2 linked regions of the Homo sapiens genome follow. The protein of the gene in region 1 interacts with the protein of each later gene in a biochemical or structural test. Each region holds a gene or a part of one and is shown in the gene's direction. Other genes may lie near its edges.

Region 1 (3,661 bases):
ATAATGCTGCCCTCAAAAAACTGGTGTGGAGATTAAATAAATTAATCTACATAAGCACTTAGACTAATGCCTGGCACTTAGCACAGAAGCAGTCTGTAGGTTAGTGTCTGAGCACTTTTTACTCAGTGTTTCTGACAACAAAATGAGAGAAATTTTTTTCCTCCTGACACCAACCAATTTTGACACCAACGGGGTGTCCTACAATTCAATTCTGACACGAATTACAGATAGTTAGCGCAGACCTCACAGGATAAGGATGCAGTCCCACAAGACTGCCCTCGCGTCAAATGTCAGGTCTCTGGGTCCCCACATCTCTTGGGTAGCCATGCTTGTTGTCTGACTTGGCTATAAGGTTAAGGTCAAGAGTTCCCAGAACCTTCCTCCCTTTCAGGTTGGATAATTTTGCTAGAATGGCTCACAAAACTCCGGGAAACATATAATTTTTGTTTACCAGTGTGTTGTAAAGAATATGACTCAGGAACAGCCACATAGAAGTGCTATATCAGGCAGGGTATGGAGAGAAAGGTGCAAAGCTTCCATGCTCTCCCAGCACCTGGACATATTCACCACCCAGAAAGTTCTCTGAACCTCATTGTCCCAGTGTATTTCTGGCGGTTTCATTATGTAGACATGATTGATGAAGTCATTGGCCATTGGTGATTGAACTCAACCTCCAAGCCCCTCTCTCTTCCTTGGAGGCTGGCGGGTGGAGCTGAAGTTTCCAAACTTCTAATCAAGGCTTGGTCTTTTTGGTGGCCAGCCCCTATCCTAAAGCTATCTAGGTGCCAGCCAAGAGTTGCCTCATTAAAACAAAAGATGGTAGTCCTAGCACTTTGGGAGGGTGAGGTGGGCGGATCACTTGAGATCAGGAGTTCGAGACCTGACCAACATAGTGAAACCCTATCTCTACTAAAAATTAGCTGGGTGTGGTGGTGTGCACCTGTAGTCCTGTTACTCGGGACACTGAGGCAGGAGAATCGCTTGAATCCGGGAGGCAGAGTTTGCAATGAGCTGAGACTGCACCACTGCACTCCAACCTGGGCAACAGAATGAGACTCTGTCTTTAAAAAAAGAAAAAAAAAAATGTTCCTGTCACCTTTATCACTCAGGAAATTCCAAGGGTTTTGGAAGCTCTGTTCTAGGAACTAGAAACAAAGATCAATGTTTTTCTGTGATAACATAGCATCTGTCACCTTGAGAACTTAAAATGTTAATGTGATTGTAGTTCATTTTATCCAGCATGGCTTTATCTAAGGGAGGGCCTACAAAGCACAGTGGAAGAGGGTGGGCATTAGAGTCAGACTTGGGTTTGATTGACAGAACTAGATACTTAGTTATTTTCACACTGGGCAATTGCCTAAACCTGTTAAGCTTCATTTTTTTTTTCATCTGTAAATTGGAGAATATGGTGTTTACTTCATATGGCTATTGTAAGCAATAAAAAAAAAGGTATTTTAAACACCTAGCATAGCAGGTGTTAGTGCTAAATTATATATTACTTTCTCCTGATAAAGTAACCTTTTAAAAAGTAAAGAGCTTATTTATATAGAGCTAGTTTCCAGTCTCTTGTTTTAGAGACTTAAAAAACAGTACTGGACTGCTGTTGTTGTTTCACTGTGGCAAAGAATAGAAGAATGAATTTTATTTCATCATATATTTGATGGTTCCCAAATCATTCCTTGCTTCTTATAGCCAGCAGAAACCTACAGTTGGATTTTGGTGAGTCTAAGTTTGTAGTAAGTGAGATTGTTTTTAGTGAGCTGTCAGCGGGGGTTGATGAAAGGCAGAAGACCATGGTCGTTTTTAATGAGGTTGTGTGAAAATCCAATGAAGTGGTCAGTGAAAATTCTACCTCGAGATAAACTGTGCAGACTGGCTCTAACAGTAGATTATTTTCTTCTAATTATAAGTTTGCTATAGCTTCTTTTATTTTTGTTTCTGTTTTTGTTTGAAACCAGAAAGTCCTTTGCTGTTTCCTTATTATCCTCGAAAATCATTGCATTTTGTGAAAAGGCGGATGGAGAATATTATTGATCAGTGTTTGCAAAAGCCAGCAGTAAGTTTGAAAGAAATGCATGTCTTTGTGTAGGAGCAATAGTGTCTACAGTATGTGGCTCACTTATGTAAATGATCTTAATTTTTAGAATGAACTATGAAAATGTTGATAGTCAACTGTTTTTGATTAACAAAAGTAACAATTTCATATGGTTCAACCTAATACTCCAACTTAAGTTTCTTACACACGTGTGTGTGTGTGTGTGTGTGTATAAAGATTACTGAAGGTGTTGGCATCTTGAGTATTTTATTTGTTCCCAGAAGAAATTCATTGTAAACAGTCTTAGTTACAGAGCTGATGTGTCTCTGCTTACTACTGAAGGATGTGAATGAATGGTTGTTATGAGACCAGAGGGAGGTGGTCTTAAACCTGCCATGTGCTTAGCACCAAGGTCCTTTTCAGCTCAGAATTTTCTCTTTTTCCTTACTGTTACAATTGTCATTAACGTTTCTTATGTACAAGGTTTGGTGATGTAGGCGATTTTTTTACCACATTCGAACAGTGATGGTCAGTCACTTTCTGTAGAGTATCTGTGTGCATATTAACGCTCTAATTATATTTTAAAATCTTATTTTATATAGGATGTAATTGGAAAATCGATGAATCAAGCAATCTGTATTCCATTGTATAGAGATACCAGAAGGTAATTCTGTTTACCTATTGGATGGTGTAATTCCGCAGCCAATTTAAATTTTTCTCATTTCTTTTTCCCTTTTATTTTAGTGAGGATTCTACACGTAGATTGTTCAAATTTCCTTTTCTGTAAGTATATATTTCTTCCCTATCTTGAGTGAACAATACAATTTTGTTTTATCCATCAATAGTTAAAAAATATTATGACAATTTTTTTTCTTAGGTGGAATAATAAAACTTCAAATCTACATTATCTTCTTTTTACTATTCTAGAAGATTCACTTTATAAAATGTGCATCTTAAGGAGACATACTGATATTTCTCAGTAAGTATTAATCTGAAGTTTGAATCAAAGAGATAAGATTTTATTATTTGTAAGAATGAAGCATACAGCCTTCCAGCATTTCAGATTTTAAACTACTTTGTGACTTTTAGATGTGTCATTTAATTGTTAGTTTTCATGTCATTAAAAGGGTAACACTGAATTAGGAAGTTATATGATCTTGTTTTAGATTATTTAATTTTTATTGGCATATAATCATTGTAGGACTTTTTTTAGAGTTAGGAAAAATATGACAGCTCAGGATATTATACTTCATTTTTTAGAAGTTAAAAACTTCCGAAAAACTAAAAGTTAAAGAAGTTTTAACTTTTTAGAAGTTAAAAACTTCTAAAAGTGGCTGCCTTATAGAAATGATTTTTGCCTAGGGTTAAGTATGCTTTTCATTAAACAAGAGGCCTTGCCTAACAGAGACTTACTTTGAAATTGAAAGTAGAAGTTCTGAAAAATAAATCATATTTAGAACGCCATTGGTAGCTTAAAAATGGTTTTAAACCTGAATTTGAAGAAAATGTTGAGACCACGATGTAACCAAAAAGAAATAATTGGGTTATTTCTATTCCAAATGTCTTTGGTGACTGTGTGATTTTAAACCAAATTGGTTTATCTATCTAGGCATTTAAACAAGTTCT
Region 2 (2,763 bases), on another chromosome or scaffold:
GAGGCTGAGGCAGGAGAATGGTGTGAACCCGGGAGGCGGAGGTTGCAGTGAGCCGAGATTGCGCCACTGTACTCCAGCCTGGGCGAAAGAGCGAAACTCTGTCTCAAAAAAAAAAAAAAGAATAAATCATTGCAAGCTGTGTGTGCATGCCTGGGCCTTATGAGCTGATAGACTTCACTATAAGGAGATTAGGTGGGAACCTGGTGATCTCTTTGTGGGGATTGGAAAGTCTTCCCTCTGGATGGGGGAGAAATTTGGCAGATGATCTAAGCATCTTCACACAGATTTTCATTCATTTCCCCTATATTCACTCTTGCCTCTGTGGTGCCTGTATCACCACTTCCTAAACCTTTCTGGGGTTCTGCTGTGTGGATCAGTTTGCATCCCTTGGGGGTCCCTTCTGTCAGCACTTGGTATTCAGCTCTCTTGAACTCTTAACTCTTCATCTTCTTTCTTTTTTTTTTTTTGAGACAGAGTCTCGCTCTGTCACCCAGGCTAGAGTGCAGTGGCGTGATCTCAGCTCACTGCAAGCTCTGCCTCCTGGGTTCAGGCTATTCTCCTGCCTCAGCCTCCCTAGTAGCTGGGACTACAGGCATCCACCACCACACTCGGCTAATTTTTTGTATTTTTAGTAGAGACAGGGTTTCGCCATGTTAGCCAGGATGGTCTTGATCTCCTGACCTTGTGATCCGCCCGCCTCGGCCTCTCAAAGTGCTGGGATTACAGGCGTAAGCCACTGCGCCCAGCCAACTCTTCATCTTCTATCTTCCAAAACTTCTGTGTTTGCATTTGGCTAGTGTTGTGTAGTTTCCAGTTCTTTCCTCTTGGGAGTTTTCTTTGTCAGTCTTTCCTCTTCTTTCCTTCATTTGTTTCTTAATTTCTTTTCTCTCATTTTGTAATATTTCAGGTGGAAGTGCAAATAAGCATGTGTTCAGTTTACTATGTTTAAGTGGAAGAACAAGTTCAAAGTCATGTTTATTAGACCAAATAATCCTCATTCCTGTTATCACTCCCCATACAGCAAAAATTTGTTGTCACTTTGTCATGTCACCAAATTTCTATTTTAGTTGCTTATATCTGGATATCCTCCACCTTCAGAACACTGTGTTTGCTGTTCTAAATGTGGGAGAATTATGGTTTTGTACAAATAATATATTTTCCTTTTCAGTATAATACCCTCTGATAAAACACAGTGTTTTGGCTGTGGCGGTTCATTGAGCTAGAAATTAAGTCCTGTAAGTCTATGTACACATCCCAGCAGGGTTCTTTTCAAAGAGCATTAGCTTCCCCCTGCCTTGTTCTTCTCTCCCACCATTCTTTGTCCTCACAGGCAGAGGAGATGCTGAAGAAGAAACCTCGGGCCACCACTGAGGTGAGCAGCAGGAAATGCCAACAAGCCCTGGCAGAACTGGAGAGTGTCCTCAGCCACCTGGAGGACTTCTTTGCACGGACACTAGTACCGCGAGTGCTGATTCTCCTTGGGGGCAATGCCCTAAGCCCCAAGGAGTTCTATGAACTCGACTTGTCTCTGCTGGCCCCCTACAGCGTGGACCAGAGCCTGAGCACAGCAGCTTGTTTGCGCCGTCTCTTCCGAGCCATATTCATGGCTGATGCCTTTAGCGAGCTTCAGGCTCCTCCACTCATGGGCACCGTCGTCATGGCACAGGGACACCGCAACTGTGGAGAAGATTGGTTTCGACCCAAGCTCAACTATCGAGTGCCCAGCCGGGGCCATAAACTGACTGTGACCCTGTCATGTGGCAGACCTTCCATCCGAACCACGGCTTGGGAAGACTACATTTGGTTCCAGGCACCAGTGACATTTAAAGGCTTCCGCGAGTGAATGAGTGCTTCTTAATCCTAAAAACACAATGGCTGAATTATCTTTCTCCATGTGGCGCTGAATCACCCATCTGGTTTGGAGCTAGAGTTGCTTCCTGGTGAGAGAGGAAGCAACTCTCCTTCTGGTTGTCTGCCTCCCCTCAGATTTCCTGATAGGCTGATGGCATGTGGCTGTGACTGTGACTGTAATCATTGCTGAACAACATCTCTTTGAATCAAAGGTTGATTTTCCCAGAGGGTGCTGGGTCAGGCATTTCTATTAGGAGTTGGAAAGCAAAAATGGGTCCATAGACACTCTATGGAGGTGTCCCTTTCTGCTCTTTGCTGTGTCCTTTCAGAATTTTTACCAGGAACATAATGTGGATGTGACTTATGAACTTAAATATAAAATAAATAGATTCTTATTATATTTTCCTGAAATTGTTTTGACTTAACTTGTCAGGTTTTAGGCTATTTTGTCTTTCTCCTTGGCCTCTTCTGCTTCAGGGCTTCTCGAATTTTTTTTTTTTTTCTTTTTTCTTTTTTGAGATGGAGTCTCGCTGTATCGCCCAGGCTGGAGTACAGTGGCACAATCTTGGTCGCTGCAACCTCCACCTCCCAGGTTCAAGGAATTCTCCTGTCTTAGCCTCTCGAGTAGCTGAGATTGCAGGTGTGCACCACCACGCCCAGCTAATTTTTGTATTTTTAGTAGAGATGGAGTTTCACCATGTTGGCCAGGCTGGTCTCGAACTCCTGCCCTCAAGTGATCCACCTGTCTTGGCCTCCCAAAGTGCTGGGATTACAGGTGTGGGCCACCGTGCCTGGCCTTAGGATTTTTTTACTAATGATTTTTTCTCTTGTTCAGCCCCAGGCTAGTCTAGGAAATTAAGTGACTTGGCCAAGTGCATATGTAGTTTGATAGCAGAGTTAGGACTAGAGTCC

Evidence for each region. Proteins that work in one complex are often made in the same cells at the same time.
Region 2: the proteins of ANAPC4 (region 1) and MAD2L1BP form a complex in vitro, tested with the Homo sapiens proteins (one study listed by BioGRID).

What each region holds. Positions count from the first base shown.
Region 1 is NC_000004.12:25,411,687-25,415,347, forward strand, and holds part of ANAPC4 (anaphase-promoting complex subunit 4), read left to right. Parts: intron 1-1,958; coding exon 1,959-2,056; intron 2,057-2,637; coding exon 2,638-2,699; intron 2,700-2,779; coding exon 2,780-2,818; intron 2,819-2,912; coding exon 2,913-3,014; intron 3,015-3,661. UniProt on the Homo sapiens protein: Component of the anaphase promoting complex/cyclosome (APC/C), a cell cycle-regulated E3 ubiquitin ligase that controls progression through mitosis and the G1 phase of the cell cycle.
Region 2 is NC_000006.12:43,638,691-43,641,453, forward strand, and holds the end of MAD2L1BP (MAD2L1-binding protein), read left to right. Parts: intron 1-1,330; coding exon 1,331-1,843; 3' UTR 1,844-2,251; downstream 2,252-2,763. UniProt on the Homo sapiens protein: May function to silence the spindle checkpoint and allow mitosis to proceed through anaphase by binding MAD2L1 after it has become dissociated from the MAD2L1-CDC20 complex.